4 linked regions of the Homo sapiens genome follow. The protein of the gene in region 4 binds, or shares a complex with, the protein of the main gene of each other region. Each region holds a gene or a part of one and is shown on either strand. Other genes may lie near its edges.

What was found.
Region 1: NUP214 (region 4) and NUP93 share a complex: the UniProt entries of both Homo sapiens proteins name them as parts of the nuclear pore complex.
Region 2: NUP214 (region 4) and NUP188 share a complex: the UniProt entries of both Homo sapiens proteins name them as parts of the nuclear pore complex.
Region 3: NUP214 (region 4) and NUP85 share a complex: the UniProt entries of both Homo sapiens proteins name them as parts of the nuclear pore complex.

What each region holds. Positions count from the first base shown.
Region 1 is NC_000016.10:56,845,129-56,850,786, reverse strand, and holds the end of NUP93 (nuclear pore complex protein Nup93), read right to left. Parts: 3' UTR 501-5,658; downstream 1-500. UniProt on the Homo sapiens protein: Plays a role in the nuclear pore complex (NPC) assembly and/or maintenance. May anchor nucleoporins, but not NUP153 and TPR, to the NPC. During renal development, regulates podocyte migration and proliferation through SMAD4 signaling.
Region 2 is NC_000009.12:128,950,659-128,957,698, reverse strand, and holds part of NUP188 (nucleoporin NUP188), read right to left. Parts: intron 4,927-7,040; coding exon 4,853-4,926; intron 1,350-4,852; coding exon 1,265-1,349; intron 748-1,264; coding exon 667-747; intron 1-666. UniProt on the Homo sapiens protein: Component of the nuclear pore complex (NPC), a complex required for the trafficking across the nuclear envelope. Required for proper protein transport into the nucleus.
Region 3 is NC_000017.11:75,229,675-75,236,294, reverse strand, and holds the end of NUP85 (nuclear pore complex protein Nup85), read right to left. Parts: intron 4,956-6,620; coding exon 4,872-4,955; intron 4,723-4,871; coding exon 4,657-4,722; intron 4,468-4,656; coding exon 4,316-4,467; intron 3,445-4,315; coding exon 3,327-3,444; intron 3,238-3,326; coding exon 3,137-3,237; intron 1,659-3,136; coding exon 1,507-1,658; intron 1,196-1,506; coding exon 1,094-1,195; exon of another isoform or gene 1,093-1,093; intron 718-1,092; coding exon 616-717; 3' UTR 537-615; downstream 1-536. UniProt on the Homo sapiens protein: Essential component of the nuclear pore complex (NPC) that seems to be required for NPC assembly and maintenance. As part of the NPC Nup107-160 subcomplex plays a role in RNA export and in tethering NUP96/Nup98 and NUP153 to the nucleus.
Region 4 is NC_000009.12:131,142,580-131,149,619, reverse strand, and holds part of NUP214 (nuclear pore complex protein Nup214), read right to left. Parts: intron 5,341-7,040; coding exon 4,866-5,340; intron 3,492-4,865; coding exon 3,316-3,491; intron 2,134-3,315; coding exon of another isoform or gene 2,131-2,133; coding exon 2,036-2,130; intron 1-2,035. UniProt on the Homo sapiens protein: Part of the nuclear pore complex. Has a critical role in nucleocytoplasmic transport.

The sequences.
Region 1 (5,658 bases), on a different chromosome or scaffold from region 4:
CCAAATTCCGGCTCCCCTTCCCCAAGGCCAATACGTGGCTCTCAACCCCCATTTAAAATGCTTTCCACTGAAGGTCTAAAATAAAGGGTTACAGATCTTAGCTGTTCCTAGCCCCCAGAATGCATGCCACATGCTGGGTTTATCACCAGAATGCTTCTGACTTACTGTCCCACCACAGTCAGAATCTGACCTTTCCGGCCAAGAATTCTGAAGTTCAGGGGGAGAAAGCACAAATTCAGAGCTGGGATGGGAGTCCTGTACTTACAGAGACCTCTGGGGACTTCGCAGACCCAGGGACTGGATAGGCCTTAGGAGCCTTCTTTGCAGGGAGTGGAGAAGGGGCCTGGCTCATTAAGCCCCGAGGCCAGGTAGAGGCACTTCTGTCACCTTCTGAGGAGCCCCCAGGCTGTGCCTCAGCTAAAGATATTCCCAGGAAAGGCCTGAGAGAGGCTTCTGCTCCACTGAAGGACTGAACAAAGGGGGCACATGGCACTCTGGGAGAATATTCCAGAAATTTACTGGCTACAGACAGGGATAGTGGTGAAGGAACCATCCTAAACAGAGTAAATGCAGAAGTTACTGTACAGAAAGGAACATGCAGAACACATCCACCAACGCTCTCCCACCCTCTCCCTTCTCCCACAAGCACCACACAGAGTGACTCGAGAAAAGCAAAAAAGAAAAAAAGGAAAATAATCAGTCAACTGAAAAACGCAAAGAATTCTCCCCCACTGAGTTTCTAACACAAGTTACTGATCAAGTGAGAAAAGGCTGTACTTTGGCTCTTTCCTTTCTTTCTAAAATACACAGTATTTGAAATTCCTGGTTGAAAAACACAGTAGATGACAGCCACTGAGGTCAACTGGGGCCCACATTATCCCGCTCAGCTGCCTGCCTAGCTCTTCAAAACTGCGTATCTCAGTCATTTCCGATGCCCACAAAAGCACAAACAATGCACAAAATCAGGGTAATCCAATTCCACTAGAGAGCTCCCGGCAGCCCGTGGCAGGCCTGAAGGTCTCTGGGCAGCTAGTACCAGCAGAGGCAAGCCCAGGTAGGGCAGCCACATAGAACTGGGACATACTTACACTAGGAACTTCTTCACTGTTTATCCAAAATGCAAACTTAATTGAGTGTCCTATATTTTTATTTGCTAAGTCTGACCCGGATGAAGGGGCCTTACCTGCAGGCCATAAAGCCCCTGGGTGCCACCTGAAAGCCTGCCTAGGCCAGGTCTGCTGAGGCCACCAAAGCATATGTCCTGATGCTGAAGTCCCCTCTGGGATCACTGACTCCCCACTTCCTGTTCAAACAGAAGCCAGTGTCTGGGGCAAACTTTTTTGCCCTCCCCATCCCCAAGAAATAGAAGCTCAAGGGCAAAGGCAGCCAGGTGTACAGATTGTGCTAGCGCAGAGCTGGGTTTCTGCCAGCACCCCGTCCCTTTTTCTTTTTAAAGATCCGGCCTTCATTATTCACAGTACATCAAATTTCCACCCCCTTCTCAATGTTTCCCTGCTGCTGTGCAGCTCTGCAAGTTTCTGTCTTTGAAGGAACAGCCCTGAGTCTCATTTGATCCTGGGAGACATTATTCTCCTCCACCTTCTTTCAGACTGAATGCCTATTAAGGGCCCCCACGGTGAATCACGGAGTCTGAATCTAGGCACGTGGAGCTGATCCAGAGGATGTGGGGAGGAGCCTGGCACAGGAGGACAAAGCAAAGCATCTGCTCATTCAAATATCTGCTGAGCAATCTACTGTGGGCCAGATACCCCAGAGAGGGCACACAGGAGAAGCATATTTCAAAAACCAAGGTTAGGACAGGAAAATATCCTCTTTCCCTGGGTTAGCAACTTAGAACCACGAGTACTTCACTTAGGTGATCCTGGACAAAAAAACGAAAAAAACGAGCCTACTTTTAAAGAATTATGCACAACTCTGGGAACAAATCAGTGCTTAATTTACCTCAGATATTCCAGCTACCTAGCACGGCCCAGCACACAAAGAGGTTTTGAAATCATCTGCTGCAATGGAATCTTGGCTGATAAATACACGTGGCCTATCTAGCCAGTCACAAGTTATGTGCGTAACAAGGCAAAAAAGCAGCACAGACCACTTGAAATCTCTTTTCAGAACACTTTAGTAATTTTTAACTTTTTTCCTTTTCGGTTGGAAACAAGTGGCAGAAAGATTTATTTCCTTCCTGTCCCTGCCCTGTGAGGGATACCAATATATTATGGAACTGTCAGAAGATGGTGGAAGATGGGAAGACTTGTGGATTCAGCGTAGGATAAAGAATGGGGGATATTTTCTTCCACAGTTTAGACAACTCCTGTTTAATGAGATGCTGACTTCTTCCTGGTATTTCTGAGATGCAGGAACAAAAGCTCAATTCTGATATAAAACACACATTTCCATCAAGAATTTTATATGTAACACTTTCTCCCAATTTGCTGACACAGGGCTCAATTCCTTTCCCAGCTGACTGAGGCTAAGGGAGAGTTCGCAGTCAGTGTGGGGACTGCCAAGACTTTGTCAGGCCTGGGTCAACCCGCCAGCCCAGGGGTTCATTTTCTGACTCAGCATTCAGCATGCTCAAGTCACTTCCTGAGTGGCATGCTGGAAATTTGGCAAGTGATGTGAACCACCTAATGAACTAGACAAAGGTTCTGGTGCCTAGTAGAGAAAAAGGATAGTAGAGATCCAGTCTAAAGCAGGAAGGCGTTGGCAGAGCTGCATATAACTGCAAATTTAGTATTAAGGGTTCTGGCTAGGTGCAGGCAAGGGTAAAAATTCAAAGAGAGAAAAATCACCCTCAGGTTTTTTTTGGTCAGCAAATGCTGGACACTGCGGAAAAGTCTGTAGTTCTTTGCTTTAAAGCTGCCTGTTCTAGGATTTAAATGATGCATCAAGAGTTAACAGTGGCTGCCAAATTGTCCTTAAGAGGCTCTAATTAGACTGTAAGTTCGCGGAGGACAGGAGCTGGGTCTGCATCCTGGCCCCAGTGTAAAATGGGCACTTCCTGCTCTTTGATGAGCCCGCCCAGCTCGTGAGTGAAAAAGGAAGGCATCTGCCGTGGCAGAGCTCACCAGTTTCGCTTCAGTTTTCCCTCTGAAGTTGGGGAGTCAAAGAGTTTTTTGTTGCTGTTGTTGTTGAGCCAAAAGAAGAGAATCTGTGAAATTAAATCTCCAGGCCTCTGAAAAGGATCCAGATCAAGTCAGTACTTTCCTTTGAGTGTTTCAGTGAGTTTATTATGAGCCATTCTGAGACAGGAACAAACCCTGACAGTCTCAAAGTGCCCCCAATTTCATTAGAAAGATCGAAATCTCACATCTGGAAGACAAGACGCCTAGTGCCACTTTCTCTTAGTTTCTCTGGGTAAATAGTGAAATCCTGGCCCAACATCTAAGGAAAGAGTTAGTTCTCTGAAAAAGTGGGCTGAAGATGAGTTTTTAAGATAATAACCTGTCACAGGGTCAGGACTTCTGGGCATAAGCTGTAATGATGGGTACATGACAACCTGATGTTGTGGCCTTGCAAATTCAGCCTGTTTCTCATCTCTGCACAATTCCAGAGGCCTGTGCTCAATCGCACAATCAGCTTGTAGGACAAGAACTGGGATTTGCTCCATCCGAGTCCTGGCCCTTCTGGTATGAACCTACTTATCTTCTTTCTCCTACAAATGTCTCTCTCAGCAAGTCCTTAACTGCCAACCAGTGACCACTTTTCTCCCAACTCACAGCTCCCCTAGCAGAGCAGCTCAAGGTCTGGCTGCTTCTCTCCCTTCTCATTTTAGGACCCATCTACAGGTCAAAGAACCTCATCCCCTGGATGCAGGGCTGGTGTGCAGTTCTCTCTGAGACAAGTAGAACTGCAGGATGCAAGGAAAGGCAAATCCACGATTCTCATGGGATAGTGAAGAAGAGGTAAGCCAGGAGCAAACATGTATTTAAACAACTTGAGCCTTCTCATTTGTGGCATTGTTATATTTCTATCTGCAAGTAAAATCTAGTATTAGAAAAACAAAGCACTAAGTTGCACTTTATGAAAAGTCCACAGAGTACTCTTATTTTTATTTTTGAATCAGAGCCTCACTCCATCGCCTAGGCTGGAGTGCAGTGGCATAAGCTCGGCTCACTGCAACCTCCGCCTCTTGGGTTCAAGTGATTCTCCTGCCTCAGCCTCCCGAGTAGCTGGGATTACAGGCGCCTGCCACCATGCCCAGCTGATTTTTGTATTTTTAGTAGAAACGGGGTTTCCCCATGTTGGCCAGACTGGTCTCAAACCCCTTACCTCAAGCGAACTGCCTGCCTTGGCCTCCCAAAGTGCTGGGGTTACAGGCGTGAGCCACTGCACTCGGCCAGAGTACTCTTTATTTTTTTGAGACGGAGTATCGCTCTTTCACCCAGGCTGGAGTGCAGTGGCATGATCTCAGATCACTGCAACCTTCGCCTCCCGGGTTCAAGCAATTCTGTCTCAGCTTCCTGTGTAGCTGGGATTACAGGTGCCTGCCACCATGCCCGGCTAATTTTTGTATTTTTAGTATAGACGGGGTGTCACAATGTTGGCCAGGCTGGTCTTGAACTCCTGATCTCAGGTGATCACCTGCCTTGGCCTCCCAAAGTGCTAGGATTACAGGTGTGAGCCACCCCACCCGGCCAGGAGTACTCTTTTTTAAAAAGCACTATTAAATCATTTGATTAGCTTAAATCAGCACATATAAGCAGGGCACAACTTGCTAAATCAAGGCCTCTGCAGGGCTCATGTTTCAAGACTTTCTAGTAAAGCTCAATTGAAGACAGTCCTCCAGGGTGACAAGATGGGACTAGAGGAGGAAGGCAGAACACAGCTCCACTGACCCTCAGGCCGCATCCTTCCTGGAACATGGAATCCTACCGATAAGCAGCAGTTGGTTCCATTATCTACAGATTATTTCTTCCCAAAAGAAAAGGTAACAATTATTTTAACAACTGGGAGACAGTGGGGATGACCACACCCTGTGACAAGACAGAAACTTCTCCCTACAAGCAAAGGCACCTTTGGGGACCCTTTGGGGATCTTAACATTCTGCTGGGAAAGAGTCTACCTCAGGGAGCCGTCCATCAAACCAGCAGAGCAGACCACTGCCCACTGTCTCAAGGCTCCAGTTGGCCCATTCAGGAACAAACACGACCTAATTTGCTCTCTGGTTTAGTCTAGGGCTTTGGGACTGATGGTGGGGGAAACAGAGCAAATGATGGGTGACAACTACTGCTCAGGGAGCAAACACCCATGGTGCTGATGCCATGTGGTGGTCTGGATTCTGTACATTGCAGACTCAGCACGTGACCCATGAGCCTGCCTGGCCAATTACCTTAATGAGTGGGGAAGGGGGTCGTCTGAGCAGAGGAACTGACCACCAGAGAAGGGAAATAGGGGCTTAAACGTCTTTCTAGGAGGGGTGTGTACAAGGCCGAGCAGTCAACTCACAGTGGAGCAGCTACAGAGGAGTGCAGTGGCAAGGTTTACCCCTTCCTCAAGTGCAAGCTGGGGGCACTTGCAACCTTCCTTCTTAAGGCTTTTTCTAGGTCTATGCTTTTATCTCCACTGGGATTGCAACAGAACGGCAAACTGATGAATCCTGCAATCAGAGCTGATGATTTGGGGGATGGTCTTGGACCA
Region 2 (7,040 bases), 2.2 Mb from region 4:
AGGTCAGGAGATTGAGACCATCCTGGCTAACACGGTGAAATCCTGTCTCTACTAAAAACACAAAAAATTAGCCGGGCGTGGTGGCAGGCGCCTATAGTCCCAGCTACTTGGGAGGCTGAGGCAGGAGAATGGCGTGAACCCGGGAGACAGAGCTTCCAGTGAGCCAAGATCACGCCATTGCACTCCAGCCTGGGAGACAGAGCGAAACTCCATCTCAAAAAAAAAAGAAACTCTACCAAATCCTTATCACCTCTAATAGCCCAAGATTCTATGATTAACATGTCAGTCTTTGACCTCTCCACTCCTCCAAGTATGAAGACAGATCTCAGCTTATATGCATATATATTCTTTACTTTTTAAAGAGATAGGGTCTCACTCTTTTGCCTAGGCTGGAGTGCAGTAGTGCGATCACAGTTCACTGCAGCCTCAAACTCCTGGACTCAAGTGATCCTCCTGCCTCAGCCTCCCAAGAAGCTGGGAGTACAGGCACAAGCCATTGCACCCAGGTCATGTTTTTTTTAAAGCCTTTAGTAGGTCTTCCCTGAAGATGACGGTACCTGATCACCTACCACCGATAAAAGAATTGGTGCCAAAATCCTACATTATCTAAAACCAACAGGGAAAAAGGATAAAGGCAGAAGAAAGGAGCTGACATAAACCACAAACCTTTACTGAGTCCCGAGTACCCCTGTAGTCCTCTTGCAGGTAACACTGGAGTAACTGCACACTCTGTTCTTCATCAAGACCCTGAAACACAGAGATTTTAAGTAAGGAACAGCTCAGAAATCGCACACAGGATGCAGAGAATTTAAAGATTTGTCTTCTACAATGAACACAGGACTTGAATAAACAAAAATGCTTCTCAAAGATTCATAAAACATAACAATTCTGACTCTAATAGAAGACAAGAGCCAGTCACTGACATACAATTTTTATTACAATTAAATGTACATGCCAGAAACAACGATGCTTATTCACTAAGCACATTAATACAGCAGTAGGCATGATGTGAGCTTCCAAAATGACAAACTTAGTCACCTTAAAGACCACCACATGTCTGGTGAAGAAAACCCTATGATATGCAGTGAATGGATCAGGCAACTTTGACTTGTAACTTTTAGGGAGAAGAGTTGCAACCTGGGTATTTATAAAACAATTTAATCCCCAAAACAAAAAGAAACTGAATTTTCACTATCACTAGCAATATAACCACGCACATCCACACTGCAAGTAATAAATTGAGCGAGTGCTAATTTTTACTCACCAAAAACTTGCTGATTCTTAAACCCAGTTCCTTCAATGGTGAAGCTACATCTTTATTAGCTTTCACTTTTTCAGCTGAACTTGGACTACAAAAAGAACAGTGAATCATTTCTTCATTCTCAATAGCCCACTGAGTTTAAAATAAAAATATTTTAAAATATTTTTCCTACAGACTATTTTCTGCCCTTCAGATGCCTATAAACACACACACAAACACACACACGCACACACACACACACACACACACACACACCCATTCACCTCTACAAACTTCATAACGCAGAACTGGTTATGCCTAACAAAACAAAACAAAAAAAAAGTGGTTAAATTACAGTTATAACAATGTTATTTGTAAACACATTAAGTTACATTATTTTTGATCCTTACTACTGCCCTAAAAGGCAAATATTACTATTCTCCTTTTACAAATGGAATTGCCAGCACTTAGGGTAAATAACTTACCAAAAATCCCACAGCTCATAAACAGTTGCTAAAATTTAAAACCAGGTCTGTGGCATACATACATATATTAATATATTATCTGTAATAGCTCTGTCCACCGAGAAGGCCTAGAATTTATAATACTCCAACAGCAGGAGGTACATGCAGCACCCAGATCCTGCTTTATAATACCATTCTCTAATAACAGGATTCCTTGGAGAATTGGTTGATTCTAGAGTCAGGGCAAGGAAAATACAAGAAAATCTTGAAGCATCTTATAGTGAAAAGAAGTACAAAAGGGCTTAAGAAACCAAAGTCCTTTCGGTAGGAGATGACATAATAGAAAAAAAAGAAAAGAAAAAAAGAAAAAAGGAAGGACACGCCCAAAGGACAGAGGCCAACCTAAAAGAATGCCCAATAGCCAAAGCTGAAACAAGGTATAAACAAAGTATAAGATAAATAAAATAAATATATTTGAGTCTATACTGATATAAACTAATGAATAAATAAATAGGATAGGGAGGGGCCAGAACAATGGCTCATGCCTGTAATCCCAGCACTTTGGGAGGCCAAGGCAGGAGTGTAGCTTGAGGCCAGGAGTTTGAGACCAGCCTAGACAACAAAGTGAGACCCTCATCTCCACCAAAAGTGAAAAAAATTAGCTGGACATGGCTATATTTAGTACTCACTTCCAAAAAATAAAATAGGAAAAGAGAAAAAAGTAACTTTACAGAGGAGAAACTTGGCAAATGCCTCCTTAACTGAGTGACCAAGATTAACATTACCAGTGATTTCATGTGGACAGCATGTACTCTCTGCTATGATGTGGTAAGAAGGGTAGCTTGGCCAGGCGTGGTGGCTCACGCCTGTAATCCCAGCACTTTGGGAGGCTGAGGCGGGCGGATCACCTGAGGTCAGGAGTTCAAGACCAGCCTGACCAATATGGTGAAACCCTGTCTCTACTAAAAATACAAAAATTAGCCAGGCATGGTGGCATGCACCTGTAGTCCCAGCTACTCGGGAGGCTGAGACAGAATTGCTTGAACCCAGGAGGCAAAGGTTGCAGTGAGCTGAAATCGCACCATTGCACGCGAGCATGGGCAACAAGAGCGAAACTCCATCTCAAAAAAAAAAAAAAGAAGAGCACCTCACCTCTGTGTATTTTTCCCAAAAACTCACAACCCCAGTCTAATAATAAGGAAAACATCAGACAAACCCAAATTGGGGGCATACTACAAAATAACTGACCAGTCCTCAAACTTGTTCAAGGTCATGAAAATCAAGGTAAGACTAAGACATTGTCGACATTGTCACCGGCCGCGGTGGCTCACGCCTGTAATCCCAGCACTTTGGGAGGCCGAGGCGGGCGGATCATGAGGTCAGGAGATTGAGACCATCCTGGCGAACACAGTGAAACCCTGTCTCTACTAAAAATACAAAAAATTAGCCAGGCGTGGTGGCGGGCGCCTGTAGTCCCTGCTACTCGGGAGGCTGAGGCAGGAGAATGGCGTGAACCCGGGAGGCAGAGCTTGCAGTGAGCCGAGATCGTGCCACTGCACTCCAGCCTGGGCCACAGAGCGAGACTCCATCTCAAAAAAAAAAAAAAAAAAAGACTAAGACATTGTCACAGCGGGCGCCTGTAGTCCCAGCTACTCGGGAGGCTGAGGCAGGAGAATGGCGTGAACCCGGGAGGCAGAGCTTGCAGTGAGCCGAGATCGTGCCACTGCACTCCAGCCTGGGCCACAAAGCGAGACTCCATCTCAAAAAAAAAAGACTAAGACATTGTCACAGCTAAGAGGAGACTACAGGCACTTGACAACTAGGTTGGATCCTGGAACAGAAAAAAGATAGTAAAGAAAACAATAGGCTGGGTATGACGGCTCACGCCTGTAATCTCAGCACTTTGGGAGGCCGAGGTGAGCAGATCACTTGAGATCAGGAGTTCAAGGCCAGCCTGGCCAACATGGTGAAACCCCATCTCTACTAAAAATACAAAAATTAGCTGGGCGTGGTGGCGGGCACCTGTAATCCCAGCCACTCGGGAGGCCAAGGCAAGCGAATCACTTGAACCCGGGAGGTGGAGGTTGCAGTAAGCTGAGATGTGACACTGCACTCCAGTCTGGGCGACAGAGCAAAACCCCATCTCAAAAAAAAAAAAAGAACAGACACTGGAATGAGACCACCAGGGTCAAATCCTGGTTCTATCACTTAGTAGCTGTGTGACCATGACAAGTTGCTTAACCTCTTTGTGCCTCAGTTTCCCCACTGGTAAAATGGAAACAATGATAAGGGTACCTAAATGTGATAATATAGAGATTATCTTTTTAAAAAGTCCATGTATTTTAGATACATAGTCAAGTATTTGCAGATAAAATAACAAGGTATCTGGGATTTACTTTAAGGTAATTACAGGGGAAGAATTAACAGACAGATGAATAACAAGGAAAAGTTCATCGTTAACCTAAGAGAATGAAAATGGAAGGTAAAGATGTAATACATTCAAAAGCAGTACAAAAGTAGAAGGGAAATGAGGGTGACTTAGACTATAACGCATAATAGAATGAGATCTGGACTAGGAATCAAGATCAAATAAGCCCAGCCCTACAAGCTGCATTCTCTTTATTTGCAACTACTTTATATTTTATTACTATGTTTTCCACTACCCAATAAAAAGATCTATATATTCACCCAAAGAATAAAAGTAGTAACTATCTCAAAGGGGTGTTGTGGGGATTAAATAACTTTTGATAAGTCAGGTGCTTAGAGTATTAATTGTTACATAGTTAACACTACACAAGTGTCAGTTGTTAGCATCATCCTTCACTGCTATCTCCCACCAATTAGTACTCACACAGACACTGTGGACTCTGAATAAATATTAGAAAATTCGTTGAATGTTTAATAAATTCTCATCCCCACACATAGGTCATAATTATATTCTACAATACTGTATTTCTAGAAGGAATTTCCTTTTCTTTCGGTCAACAAAAAAACAAATGTACCCTACTGTTTTCCACTGGTAAACTAAATTGTATTATCTCTGGTATACATAACCCTACAATATCATCAAAGCACATAGAAGGATGGTTTTATCCATGTCAGCTTCCTTAGGACAATTACTTTAACCAGACACCCGGAACTGCCATACCTGGGAGGTTTGTAGTAAGAAAGCCCCTCTAACAATCGCCGCCAATGTTTATTCAGTTCTGCCTCAATCTGACTCTGGAAAAGAACAAGGTAATTATACAAATGCAGTATTTTTTTTTTTTTTTGAGACAGAGTCTCACTCTATCACCCAGGCTGGAGTGCAGTGGCACCAACTTGGCTGACTGCAACCTCCGCCTCCCAGGTTCAAGTGATTCTCGAGCCTCAGCCTCCCGAGTAGCTGGAATTACAGGTGCCAGCCACCACACCCAGCTAATTATTGTATTTTTAGTAGAGATGGAGTTTCACCATGTTGGCTAGGCTGATCTCGAACTCCCCACCTCAAGTGATCTGCCTGCCTTGGCCTCCCAAAGTGCTGGGATTACAGGCGTGAGCCAAGGCACCCGACCGCAAATGCAGTTTTTTGTGCTTTCTTTTTTTTTTTTTTTTTTGAGACGGAGTCTCACTCTGTTACCCAGGATGGAGTGCAGTGGCGCAATCTTGGCTCACTGCAACCTCCGCCTCCTGGGTTCAAGCAATTCTCCTACCTCAGCCTCCTGAGCAGATGGGACTACAGGCGCACGCCACCATGCCAGTCAGTTTTTTTTGTATTTTTAGTAGAGATGGGGTTTCACCATATTGTCCAAGCTGGTCTTGAACTCCTGAACTCGTGATCTGCCCATGTCAGCAAAGTGCAGGGATTACAGGTGTGAGCCACTGCGCCCGGCCCAAATGCAGTTTTATTAATAATCAGACTCGGCCAGGCATGGTGGCTCAGGCCTGTAATCCTAGCACTTTGGGAGGCCGAAGCGGGCGGATCCCCTAGGGTTGGGAGTTGGAGACCAGCCTGACCAACATGGAGAAACCCTGTCTCTACTAAAAAATACAAAATTAGCTGGGCGTGGTGGTGTATGCCTGTAATCCCAGCTACTCGGGAGGCTGAGGCAGGAGAATCACTTGAACCTGGGAGGCAGAGGTTGTGGTGAGCCGAGATTGCACCAATGCACTCTAGCCAGGACAACAAGCACGAAACTCCGTCTCAAAAAAAAAAAAAAAAAATCAGATTCCAGAATCACACTAAGTATTACACATTCCTTTGAGTGTTTTTAATATGCATTTTTCCCCAGAGTTGAAATCATTTTGAATACAGAATTCTGTAACCTTCTTTTCTTTGCTTAACATTATAACATAATGACTTAACCTTATTATGAAAGTCTTGATAAACATACTTTCAAGTTGCTGCATAATACTTGTATCAAGTTGGTAGATCATAATTCATTTACCATTCCTCTAATGTTTGATATACTTAAGCTGACTGTAATTATTTAATAATATAAATGATGTTGTGGTGAAGTTTTCTTTGTTGTTTTTTGAGACAGGGTCCTGTTCTGTCACCCAGGCTGGAGTGCAGTGATGCAATCATGGCTCACTGCAGGCTTGATATCCTGAGCTTAAGCGATCTTTCCACCACAGCCTCCTGAGTAGCTGGAACTACTAATACAAGCATATGCCACCAAGCCTGACTTTTTTTTTTTTTTTTTTTTGAGATGGAGTCTCGCTTTGTCACCCAGGCTGGAGTACAGTTGCGCGATCTCGACTCACTGCAACCTCCACTTCCGGGTTCAAGCGAATCTCCTGCCTCAGCCTCCCGAGTAGCTGGGATTACAGGCATGCACCACCACACCGGGCTAATTTTGTATTTTTAGTAGAGACGGGGTTTCTCCATGTTGAGGCTGGTCACGAACTCCTGACCTCAGGTGATCCGCCCGCCTCGGCCTCCCAAAGTGCTGGGATTACAGGCGTGAGCCACCATGCCTGGCCAAGAATCTTTCTTAGGTTGAGGTAGAAGAATGGTATTTGCACCCCTACTCTCAGCAGCCAAGCAATGAACACAGGTATCTTTTCATAAAAGGAATCAATGAAATACAAAGGTAGATTTAAAAGACTTCAGCAGCTAGGCTAGGTAGTCTCATTTCAGCAAAGAAGTAGGGAATGCGTAATGTTTATAAAGCTTTTTGCTTTTTTGAGCTGGGGTCTCGATGTGTCTCCCAGGCTAGAGTTCACTGCAGCCTCAACCTCCCAGGATCAAGCAATCCTCCCACCTTGGACTCCTAAGTAGCTGGGACTACAGACATGCACCACCATGCCTGGCTAATTTTTTAAAAAATTTTTTGTAGAGACGGGGTCTTGCT
Region 3 (6,620 bases), on a different chromosome or scaffold from region 4:
AGTCTCCCTATGTTGCCCAGGTTGGTCTCAAACTCCTGGGGTTGAGGGATCCTCCCAAAGTGCTGGGATTACAGGACGTGAGCCACTGCACCCGACCTGGGGGGTGATTTCTTATCTAAGGAGGCACAGGAAGACAGTTGCGTATCAGAACATAAAACAAGGCCGGGTGTGGTGGTTCACGCCTGTAATCCCAGCACTGTGAGAGGCCAAGGCGGGCAGATCACAAGGTCAGGAGTTTGAGATCAGTCTGGCCAACACAGTGAAACCCCATCTCTACTAAAAATACAAAAAAATTAGCTGGGTATGGTGTGCACTTATAATCCCAGCTACTTGGGAGGCTGAGGCAGGAGAATCACGTGAACCCTGGAGGCGGAGGTTGCAGTGAGCTGAGATCGTGCCATTGCACTCCAGGCCAGGCAACAGTGCAAGACTCCGTCTCAAAAAAAAAAGAACATAAAACAAGCATTTTTTAATCTCTTACCACCTCAGGTTCAGACTAGACAGATAAAAAATTCCCTGGGTGGACTCTAAGAACCTACATTTGCAAAACAACATTTATTCTTTTAAAAAAATCTATATACATTGCCATACAAAGATACCACATTGAAGCAGTTCTCAGGAACCTTCCAGTGAGCCTTCTCTTATAATTGCCCGAGCAAGATTTCGTGCCAGAGAAAGTCTCAGCATTTCCACCTTGGTGGTCTCTATGTCATCATCCTGCAAAGCAGAGAGCGCCAGCATGAGCTAAGAGCAGGAAGGAGCCCTTTCACACTCCCGAAGGGTCTAGCTAATCCAAAGGTAGAGGGCACTTAACATTCATAGTAGCTTCCAGCAAATTATCGATGTAAAAGAAAGCAATACCAAAGGGCCATACTGGAAATGATGAACAGCAAAGAACAAAATGTAGAGATGAGAACACTAGAATCCCTGATTTTCTCCTAAAAGAAGGTGGTGTGTGAATTACACAGGTTAAGGGGAACAGAGGCACATGTGTCCATAGGAGCCAGTGTTTCTGGAGGGAAGGGGAAGCCTGAGATAGAGGGAGCCTTTTCCCACCTCCATGTGGAACCATCAACCCAAAAGTGAAAATGACCTGGAGCTGCTCGGTATCAGATTCTCCATGCACAGGTCTTCTTGACGTCAAGTCCTCCAGACACCGCATCAACTCATAAGTCTGTTCTGCTGAGAAAATCACCTAGGGAAGAGAGCCTGCCTTGCTTGGCTGCCCCCAGCCCTGGCCTGCATTGGTTGGGGCAGGGGCCCATGTTCGGACGTTCTTCCTTTCATACCCTTCGCAATAGTGTGCTTTGTATACGAATACCTCATTTCAAATCAAGCAGTGTTTGTTTCCTGTGTGAGTCTGGAATCCCAGAGAGGGCGCTAAGGGGAATACACGCGCACAGGCAGAACGACAAAGGAGGAAACACGCACATCGGCAACAGCTATACAACTAAGCTCTAGCAGGGACTGACAAGCAAAGAAAACCACTGCTGCTGCAACCTTCACCTGTTTCTGTTCCAAAAGGGGCAAGGCGTCTGTCAGCAGAGTCATCCAGAAAGACCGAGGGGCAATCCGAGACGTCATCAAGGACAGAAGGAGAGAAGCTGCGTCGGCAAAACGCTTCTCCCCGTACATACGGTGGAACTCGCGATACTTTCCTATGGCGAAACAAGAGCACTGAGTAACCTGCATATTCCCCCAAATTGCCCAAGTGACACCTACAAAAGTCACCCTGGCCCTAAACAGGAGAAGAAAAACCTCAGACCAGCCACTCCACAAAGCAGGAGATTTTTTTCTGTCTCCAAACTCATAGGTCCCAATGAGATGCAGACCAAGAGCATTCAAAACAGACTTGGAAGAACTCCGAAGAGCCAAATCTGGGGAAACATCAGAGTCAAAATACATAACAAGAGTCATGGATTAAAAGAGATTGACTAGGCCAGGCGTGGTGGCTCATGCCTATGCCTGTAACCCCAGCACTTTGGGAGGCCGAGTCAGGTGGATCACCTGAGGTCAGGAGTTTGAGACCAACCTGGCCAACATGGTGAAACCCCATTTCTACTAAAAATACAAAAATTAGCCGGGTATGGTGGCATGCACCTGTAGTCCCAGCTACTCAGGAGGCTGAGGAGGAAGAATGGCTTGAACCCGGGAGGTGGAGGTTGCAGTGAGCCAAGATTGTACCACTGCACTCCAGCGTGGGCGACAGAGTGAGACTCCGTCTCAAAAAAAAAAAAAAAAAGAAGAAACATGGAGGCACTGGCCAGGCACAGTAGCTCACACCTGTAATCCCAGCACTTTGGGAGGCCGAGGCGGGCGGATCACTTGAGGTCAGGAGTTCCAGACCAGCCTGACCAACATGGTGAAACCCCATCTCTACTAAAAATACAAAAATTAGGCGGGGCGCAGTGGCTCACGCCTGTAATCCCAGCACTTTGGGAGGCCGAGGCAGGCGGATCACAAGGTCAGGAGATCAAGACCATCCTGGCTAACACGGTGAAACCCCATCTCTACTAAAAATACAAAAAATTAGCTGGGTGTGGTGGCGTGCGCCTGTAGTCCCAGCTACTTGGGAGGCTGAGGCAGGAGAATTGCTTGGACCCGGGAGGCGGGGGTTGCAGTGAGCCGAGATCACGCCACTGCACTCCAGCCCGGGTGACAGAGTGAGACTCTGTCCCCAAAAAATAAATAAATAAAATACAAAAATTAGCCAGGTGTGGTTCCGCGTGCCTGTAATCCCAGCTACTTGGGAGGCTGAGGCACGAGAATTGCTTGAAGTCAGGAGGTGGAGGTTGCAGTGAGCCTGGCAGCCTGGGCCACAGAGCGAGTAAGATTCTGTCTCAAAAAAAAAAAAAAAGAAAAAATAAAAGAAAAGAAGAAAGAAAGAAAGAGAAAGAGAAAGAGAAAGAAAGAGAGAAAGAAAGAAAAACAAACAAACAAACAAACAAACATGGAGGCACTAAGGAGATGTGACAGCCAAACTCATGATCCTGGACATGACGGAGGATGTTTCTGGGACCACTGATGCAATGGGAATACATGAAGGAAGCGCTGGGAGAAGTCTGACGTGATCCCTCCAACCTCCCCAACTACCCACTTGTGCCCAAAGCACAGGGCACAAAACCCAGAGACTCACCCAGGAATGTCAGTCGGTCACTGAGCATCATGGCTGGCCCCAGGTTGTCAATGAGATCCAAATCAGAAAAGCAGCCTCGCTCACAGTAATCCCTGAGGAACCTGCAGGGCCCGGCCCAGAGATCAGAGCAGCAGTCTCAGGCCCACCTCAACCACCCAGTCCCTGGGAAGCCAACACTAGCGGCACCCACCTGTCTGACACGAGCGTGGCAAAGGCGGCATCCTTAGCACGGATGCTCCAAGAGAGGGCAGAACCCAGGCGATTGTTGCGGACGGCTTTCATGGCTAAGATCTTACAAATGCTGCGAACTTTGCAGGGGAAAAGAAAAGGTAAACGGCTTTCACTCCACAAATCACTCCATTCCTGAGCCCTGTGGGGACCGGAGTGGCCTCACAGCCTCACTCCACCGCAGAGCCACTCTTTGGGCTCTAAATGCAGCTGGATCGGCAGAGCTGGAAACTCGGCTGATTAACAGTGTCTGGGATCTGCTAAGAGTGTAAGTGCCCATCACGGCAAGACTGGCTCTATGAGTGTGTGTGGCTTCAAGGGGAGCAAAACGTTGCTCCCTACATGTCAGCTCTTCTATTTTTTTTCTCCCTACGTGTTTCTCCCTACGTGTCAGCTCTTCTATTACCTCTCCAGATGCCTCAAATCACATCTTCCTGTGGATCGTGAATACCATATGCTTTCAGAAATGGTCGTGAACATGCAACTGCCTCTCTGCAGGGTAATAACTCATGTTTACATTACTCAACAGTGAGGGGAGAAATGAAGGGGCAGACTTGGTCATCCTCATTCCACTCTCTCTGCTTTTCTGGAGCCACCTCCAGCACTGCTTCCCCATTGAGCCAGGCTGAGCTAGCAATAGCAACCCACCTGGACAGGGAAACAGCGCCAACCCCAGCCCTGACCTCGTGGAATCAAGTGTGTGAGAAAAGGGGCGGCTCAGGCCTTTCCAGATGGCGTGTAGATTTTGTCTGGGTTCCAGTGGATCCCTAGCTTTCCTGTCCCTCCCAAGTAATTATCCCATCTCTTAGTTTACCTCTTGGCGTCCACAGCCCCACGTCTCCAGTGTGGCTCGTGAGGAGGAGGATGGCTGGGGTAGGCATAAAGTGTGACCTCAGGATCCCCTGACTCCTGCGTCCCACAGACAGTAGGCTGGGAGCAGGGCCAGCTCACCTTGTTCAGTCATCTGCCGCTGCTCACAGATCCGCAGCACCTTCAGGGCTTTCTGCTCGGTGTTCAGAGGTATCCGCTCAATGTGCAGCTCCAGGGAGACTCGGCCCAGCTCGGGGCAGTAATCAAAGTAATCGACCCCCAGCTGCCACAGGCTGCAAAGGTTCGAGGAGGACAGACATGAGGTGCTGCCTCATGGCTCCGAGGACTGGCACCTACAGCTCCCTTTCACTGACCCTTCCGAAGCCTTCAAGGAGCCAACTGGGAGAGAACAGTCCAAGCTCCAATGGCACCCGCATGCTGAAGAGCACCCGCATAGCCCACACCCATGGGGTCCTTCCTACCTGGGATGAGCAAACAGTCCCGAGGCGTACTCCAGCAGGAGGAACTCTCTCATGTTGGAACCGAAACTGGAATAAAACATAACAAAAGACCAAGACTCCTGGCCTGCCCTGTTCAGGGCCCCCTTAGCCCAACCTCCCTTTCAGGCATTCAGTTCACACCACCCTCGGGGGCCTGGTGGTAAGAAGAGGAGGATCGGTGCCTCCCGGCCACTTACTAGAGGTTGTGTGACTGGAGGAGCTTGCAGTGGTCCAGCAGGTCTGTCAGGTGGGCCACAAACCACCAGTTGCTCAGGGCGATGCTGCAGATTCAGACACCAAGGCAAGAAGGAAAATCAGGGCACAGGCCGCGTCCCACAAGAGTGGGGGTGAGCAAGAAACCCCACATGTCCTGTCCCTCAAAGAGATGGGGCCGGGCGTGATGATAGCTCATGCCCGTGATCCCAGTACTTTGGGAGGCCAAGGCAGGCAGATCACCTGAGTCCAGGAATTTAAGACCAGCCTGGGCAACATGGCAAAACCCCATCTCTACAAATACAAAAATTAGCCAGGCATGGTGGCACACACCTGTAATCCCAGCTACTCGAGAAGCTGGGGTGGGAGTATTGCTTGAGCCTGGGAAGCAGAGGCTGCAATCGGCCGAGATCACGCCACCGCACTCCAACTTGGGTGAGAGAGCACAACCATATCTCAAAAAAAAAAAAATCGCTCAGAAAGTAGTTGAGGTGGAGTCTTGCTCTGTCACCCAGACGGGAGTGCACTGGTGAGATCTCGACTCACTGCAACCTCTGCCTCCCAGGTTCAAGCAATTCTCATGCCTCAGCCTCTTCAGTAGCTGAGATTACAGGCATGCGCTACCACACCCAGCTAGAAAGTAGCTTTTGAATGTTCTCACCACACGCACACCAAAAGGGTCACTATGTGAGGTGACAGATGTCACTAGCTTAATTTCACAATGTATACATCTATCAAAACATGTTGTTGGCCGGGCGCGGTAGCTCACACCTGTAATCCCAGCACTTTGGGAGGCCGAGGTGGGAGGATCATGAGGTCAGGAAATCAAGACCATCTTCGCTAACACGGTGAAACCCCATCTCTACAAAAAGTACAAAAAATTAGCCGGATGTTGTGGCGGACACCTGTAGTCCCAGCTACTCTGGAGGCTGAGGCAGGAGAATGGCGTGAACCTAGGAGGCGGGGCTTGCAGTGAGACGAGATCGCGCCATTGTACTCCGGCCTGGGCGACAAAGTGAGACTCCATCTCAAAAAAAAAAAAAAACAAAAAACATGTTGTACACCTTGGCCGGGTGCAGTGGCTCATTCCTGTAATCCCAACACTGAAAGGCCGAGGCGGGTGGATCACTTGAGCTCAGGAGTTCAAGACCAGCCTGGCCAAAATGGCAAAACCCCATCTCCACCAAAAATACAAAAGTTAGCTGGGCGTGGTGGCGTGTGCCTGTGGTCCCAGCTACTCGGAAGGCTGAGGCAGAAGATCGCTTGAGCCCAGGAGGCAGAGGCTGCAGTGAGCTGAGATCGTGCCACTGCACTCCAGCCTGAGTGACAGGGCAAGACTCTGTCTCCAAAAAAAAAAAAAAAATTTTGTACACCTTAAATACATACTACTTTGTTAATCACACCTCAATAAAGCTGGGGAAAAAAATGGGAGGGAGTGGGCTGGGCCAGGGGAAAGGACACCTCAGCTTCCCAAAACAGCTGTTGCTACCCAGATTTCTAGCTGATGGTTATGTCGAAACCATTGGAGAAGCCAGTGAAAAGGCTATAGGGGACCCAGGCTAAGGGAGCCAAAGCCTTAGCCTGCACGAAAGCCACCAACAACTGGAAGGAAGGGCTGAGACAGTGCCCGGTGTCTTCCCAAAGGATCCAGCAGCCTCCAAGGCTGGAAGGCAGCAAGCACTGAGAGCAGAGAACTAACAACACAACTCAAGTGACGGAGACCAGACATAGTG
Region 4 (7,040 bases):
TAGTCGAGAGGTTAACAAGGTGAGAGGTGCAACAGCTTGACACAGGATGCTAGCAGGGGGACAGAGCTGTGGGCTTATGACATGTGACACAGCAGAGGGTGGAGCTGACAAGACCTCCCGCCAGCCTGGACTGGGGACAGGTACTGTTAAAGAGAGGGATCTAGGATGCTTCGGGGCTTGGGGCTTGTGCAAACATCTGGTTTGTTAGTGCTACTTACCCATTGGAAAAGGACTAGCCTCTAGGGGAGACAGAAATCAAGAGTTCTGCTTTAAAGATACTATAATTTGAAATGCCCTTTAGACTATTTGATACTTACAACGATTAACACTAGAGAGGTCTTAGACTGCATCAGCATTCATTAACAGCAAACATTTATTTGACAAACACTGTATGTCATGCATCATGCCACACCGTGAACTGTGACCTGGGCACTTACTATGTACCTAGTACAGGTGTGTGTTAGGGTACAAGGGTTGGTTAGAGGGACACAGAAAGGAAAAGACATAACGCTTATTCTCAGGGCACTCAAGTAATCACGTGGGAAACTGACATACAATTCTCTTTACATTATACCATAAAAATAAACTGAGATGATGGACTACAAATCTAAATATGAAAGATAAAATAATAAAGCTTTTAGAAAAACATCTTTTTGACCTTGAAATAGAAAATTATTTCTAAAACATGAAAAGCATTAATCATAAAAGAAAAAACTGATATACTTAATTATATTAAAATGAAGAATGTGTATTCATCAAAGAAACAAAAAAGACAATGAATAGACAATTCACAGTGAGAACATATTTGCACTGTATGTGTGTGCGTGTGTGTGTGTATTCAAGGAACTCACTCTTAAAAATCAGAAGGAAAAAGCCAGACAATCCAACAGAAAAACAGAATAAAGACATGAACAGACACAACATAAAAGAAAATATTCAAATGGCCAATAATCATCTTTTAAAAAGCTTAATTTTGCTAATCATTAGAGAAATACAAATTAAAACCACAAAACCATACAACAAAAGATGAAAAATACCAAGAGTGGCAAGTATGTGGAGCAGCCAGAAGTCTCATACACTCTTGGTGGGAATCTACTAATGAGGAATACATGCAGATTCTATGACCCAGCAATCTCACTCATAGGGATACACCCAAGAGAAACTTGCATATGTGTTCATTGAAGATGTCAACTGGAACGGTCATAGCAGTGCTACATACAATGGCTTAAACCTGGAAACTACTCAAGCGCCCATCAGAGTGGAACAAATAGTTGTAATATAATCACACAATAAATTCCATACAACGACATGGATAAATCTCACAAACATAATGTTGAACAAAGCAGCCAGATACAAGAATACATACTGTACAAATCCACTTGATAGGAGGTACAGGCAGGCTAACCTCATCTATGCTGTTGGAAATCAAATCAGCTACTCTTTGGCAAGAGTAGTGACTAGAAGGGGACAGGTGAAAAAGAACTCTGGGGTTCTGGCCTCCGCCTCCCGGGTTCAAGTGATTCTCATGCCTCAGCCTCCTCAGGAGCTGGGACTACAAGTACGTGCCACCACGCCCGGCTAATTTTTGCGTTTTTAGTAGAGACGGGGTTTCACCATGTCGACCAGGCTAGTCTCGAACTACTGGCCTCAGGTGATCCGCCCGCCTTGGCCTCCCAAAGTGCTGGGATTACAGGCATGACCCACTGTGCCCAGCCAGGTTCTCGTAAAATTCTGTTTCTTGATCTGGATGCTAGTTACCAAGGTATGTTCAGTTGTTGACAATTCACTGAGCTGTACATGTATCATGTGTACTTTTTTCTATTTGTATTATACATGAATAAAAAATTAAAATAGCTAAATGGCTTTTACGAGTATACAAGTATTCAAACCTCGCACTTTGGTATTTACTATCACATAGTCCCAATTACTATGTCCAAGGTCTGAATTATAAAACATGAAAACTCATTTTATTCATAGGTATGCTTGGGGCAGTAAATTAATAAACACAAACATTGCAAGCTGAATTTAAACATACCTGGGGAGAGCCTGGCTTTGCCGCTGGAGGGGTTATCCTGGGTGATTTCTGTACCATTGAGGGCACTGGGCTTGAACTGCCCTGAGCAGATCGTCCTGCTTGAAAAAGAAGTCAGTTAAAATAGATGGCATTTATTACCTTTATTTCTCCTATCACAAATGTCCTTTCTCCAAATCTAAGAAATTAAGTTACACATTGCCCCTGGCCCACTTTCATGATTTATTTTAAAGAGTGATGACCACCAGTTGTGCTAGCCTCTGTTCTAAGATAATGAAAAAAATATATTAAAATTTTAGGAGCCAGGTATGGTGGCTCAAACCTGTAATCCTAGCCTTTTGGGAGGCTGAGGCAGGAGGATTGCTTGAGCCCAGGAGTTTGAGACCAGCCTGAGCAACATGGCAAGACTTTGTCTCTACAAAAAAATTTAAAAATTAGCCGACGGTGGTGGTACATGCCTGTAGTCCCAGCTACTCAGGAGGCTAAGGTGGGAAGATCGCTTGAGCCCAGGAGGTAGAGGCTGCAGTGATGTGCTTGGGTGAGAGAGTGAGAGGGTCTCAAAAAACAAAACAAAACTTCCTGTTTACAGTATGACTGACTGTGAAAATATGAATATAATCACTGCAGGTACTCTCTCCTCTGTACTTTTTTTTTTTTTTGAGACAGAGTCTCGCTCTGTCGCCAGGCTGGAGAGCAGTGGCGTGATCTCGACTCCCTGCAATCTCTGCCTCCTAGGTTCAAGTGATTCTCCCGCCTCAGCCTCCTGAGTAGCTGGGATTACAGGCACCCACCACCACACCTGGCTAATTTTTGTATTTTTAGTAGAGATGGGGTTTTGCCATGTTGGCCAGGCTGGTCTCGAACTCCTAACCTCCGGTGATCCACCTGCCTTGGCCTCCCAAAGTGCTGGGTTTATAGGCGTGAGCCACCGCACCCCGCCAAACAACTCTTGTGCCTGTGCTTCTTAAAGAACTGTTATGTAACTGCTCTTCATGGAGGGCAGGCTCCATATGAAAATAAATGCCCAAGAGCAAGGCATTTTTGACTCATTAAATACACTTAGCTCCATAAGAAGTGTCAGAGAGAAGAGTGGCAGCATTTAAGCAAGAGCAAATCTCCCAATTCAGAGTATGAAAATCACAGCACATTAATCATTAATGTATGATACAGGAAGCAAGAAAAAATAACCTTGTCCAACTATGTTAGCTACGACTCTTAACACTTAAAACCGTTAATCTGAGAAGGCAGGGCTGAGGTCTAAAGTTGTCTGCTTAAAATCATACCTGATGGTGAGGGCAAGACTGAGGACTTCAATGGCACGGAACTAGGTGGTGCTGAGAGAGGTGTGGGGTGGCTGAGTGGTCCAGAAGCAGCTGGCTTGGAGGCAGAAGAGAATGGCGACATCGGGGGTGCGCTCTGGGAGCTACTAACAGGAGTAGAGGTAGCTGCAGCAGTAAACCTGAAAAATGGCAGCCTGAAGGCCTCAGAAGAGCCTGCTAGAAGATTCTTTTACACTAGCATGAGCAATGTCATCAAAAGATAACTTATTATCTTTTATGTTAACTTACAAAGATAACATACTTTTTGCCTTCAGGAAACAAAAATGTTTAGCTATTTCTTATAAAAGGTGAAAGCTGCAAGGAAACATTTATCTTTTCGTCTGCTTATTTAGGAATTAATTATTCAGGGGAAATATCAAAACTAAGTTTATCACAATATGAAATACCAAGTTTATCATGATATGAAATACTATTGTTTCCAGCTGAGTTTTAAACAGGAGGTGGGACACAATTATGCTTAGGAGAGTTAGTACTTTCTCTTACCAAGGAAATTACTGAGAACTCGTTTTGAGAGTGAGCACCTTCTCTGGGGAGTGAAAAAGGAAGAGGAATGCAGGGAACTGTCTTTGGGATACTTATGGCCTAAAGGAAATGTAAAGTCGGTTCCACCTAAAGAGCAAAAGTCTGTAGACAATCTAAACTCCAGCATTAGATGACTGGTCAGATAAACTGTGGTGCAGTCAACAAAATGGAACACTATGCAACCCTTAGCATGAAGTGGATGTGTGCCAATTCAGTATTAACAGTAACTGTGGTGGCAGCAGCACCACCATAGCAACAACAGATAGTACAGGCAAGTAGGGAAAAAGCTGGTAGTACTTATACTCGATGGTTATCTTGGGAACTCATGGTTATCTTGGGAGGGGTTACAAGATATAAGGGATTGCTTCCCTCCAAAAGCTTACATTCTAGTGGGAAGAAAAGAACAAGATAAAGAAGTAAATAAATAAGAAATGAGTGAGCTGCCCGACCCAGATCTGGAGGAAACTGGATACCAACCTAAGAATTAGCAGTGAGCAGCCACGGGGCTTCATAGGGACTGTCAAGCAGAAGAATCACCTAACAATTTACAGTGTCACAAGATGACTTTGTGGCTGTGTAGACAGCAGTTCAGAGAGAGTTAAGGGTAGACACAGGGAGGAAAAAAGACTACAAGGGATTCATTTCCCTTCCAGGATGCATACTCTGGATTGCTTCTTTTTTTAAAATAAGGAATATTTCCTACATTTGTAACGTAAAAAAGCAAAACAAATACCTGAATATAAATCCCATAGTCAAAAAAATAAAATGCTAGCTAAGAGACCCTTCTGGACTCTATTCACTGATGAAATGCCAGTATTTTATGTTGGTTGAATTTTTGCCATTTGCAAGTATCACTCTGGGTAAAAAAATTCTACTCAGTTAACTCCTCTCAGAGTGACTCTACTTTTAGTAAATAACATCCAATATTTCTACCCAACTCACAGAAGAATCAAACTTTAGAAGTGACTTACTTTTCACTAAGGTTGACTTTGACAGCAGAGGTTGAGGGTGGGAAGGAGGGCTTCATTGCTATATTTGGAGCAGACACACTTGGCACTGGTGTGCTTTCCAGGGTAGGCTTAAAACCAGATGATCCAAAGGAGAATGAAGCAGCTGATGGAGCCACAGGAGACGCTGCAGGGGTGGGGGCTAGGGAGGCTTTAGAAGGGGGAACAAAAGAGAAGGTTGATGGGCCAGGGCCTGGGGCTGCTTTGGAGCTGTCGGAGCCACTGGAATATGAAGGGGGCTCCCCAGTGACCGTAGCAGATGACTTCAAAGATGAAGAACCAAAGGAGAACACAGTGGGGGCTCCACCAGCAGGAAGCAAAGAAAAAGTGGCAATGGGAGCAGCAGGTGATGAAGGTGGCAGAGAGGCAGGGGCTGCAGCTGCAGAAGCATCCAGTTTCTGTGGGGCTTGAGAGGAGGTTGGGGTAGTGGGAGTACTTCCTGCAGTGACAAAAAAAGGAAGGAAAATGTTAACACTGTAACAGTGGAGGTTCACATAATAGAAAGCAAGTGAAAAAGAATTTGTGGTAGAATAAAGCCAGAAATGTTACTAGTTTAAGAAGCAAAAAGAACACATGGGTACACAGTTCATGTTGGAGTTTTCAGGTCTCATGAGATAAATGAAACTGAAGGAAAACTAAGGAAAGACATTAGAATAATTGGACTTCATGGACTTCTCAGTGCTACTATGGCACACAAAACAGTTCAGTCACTGCAACATTTCATTAACAACCAGGAAAAAGTTTTAATTCAGACCTCCACCTTATTTCACTAAAAGTAATTCCAGATAAATACACATAGAAAGTCACATAAATACAGGTATCTCAAAACAAAGGAGGCAAATTGATAGATATGTTAGGTCTCAGAATCTAACACCTTGATAAATTTAGAAGTGACCAAAAAAAAAACAATCGCAAAGGGAGAAGGTTAAGATTTGTGTAAAAAATAGCTACTCAGGTACAATAACTAAATGGTAATGAACTAAAAAAAAAGATCCATAGCAAATGACAAATAAGATGTTTTCTATTTTTTAAAAAGCTCATACAAATTGAGATTTTAAAATTTCAGGACTAATAAACAGGGAAACTAACTCACATAAAGAAAACACATTCAATCTCTCTAATCAAAGAAATATAAACAAGGTACATTTTTAATTTGTCCTCTAAATTATAAGAATTTAAATATGTCTAACCCCTTATGTTTGGATGGGTAAAACAAACCTGAAACTTTTTATCACTGGTAGGTAACTAGTATTTTTTTTAAGAAAACATTTTGGCATTGTATAAAAAACTGTAAAAAACAGACCCAGTAATTTCTCTTCTAAGAATAAAGCTTACAAACATAATGCAAAAAATGAAAAAGATATTTAATGCAATCCAAATGGTTAAAAAGAAAAAAAAAAGTCAATGGAAGGCTGGGCGCAGTGGCTCATGCCTGTAATCCCAGAGCTTTGGGAGGGCAAAGCAGGAGGACCCTTTGAGTCCAGGAGTTTGAGACCAGCCTGGGGAACAAAGTGAGACCCTGTTGCTACAAAAAAAATACAAAAATCAGCCAGGTGTGATGGCTTGTGCCTGTAGTCCCAGCTACTTGGGAGGCTGAGGTGGGAGGATCGCTTGGACTTGGGAGACAGAGGCTGCAGTGAGCCAAGATCCTGCCACTACACTCCAGCCTGCACAACAGAGTGAGACCCCTGTCTCAAAAATGAATAATTTTTTTTTCTATTTTCCAAACTTTCCATAAGGTAAAAATATTAATCTTTAAATTAAATAACCAACTAAATAAGAAAAGAATTCTTTGTGTCAATATTTTCTATTTATATTAATAGGACTTGGTTGTTCCAAATTAGCTAAGATGGCAGTTTATCTTCATGGAAGACACTTTGTCTAATGCAACGTAATACTTAGATACAAGTATGAAAATACCACTTTCTGAAAACAAAAATCCAAGTAAACTGTCACATTGATGAAAGTATAATAATGCAAGCAAACCTATTCTGTTAATACTTCTTTATACAATAGATATGGAACCAGCTACAACTAACTTCTGTAAAGACATACATAGATGTTAAAACACTTTCATGCATATTAGGTAAACTGACATGAAAAATATATACCAGACCCTAAATAAATCAAAAGCATTTT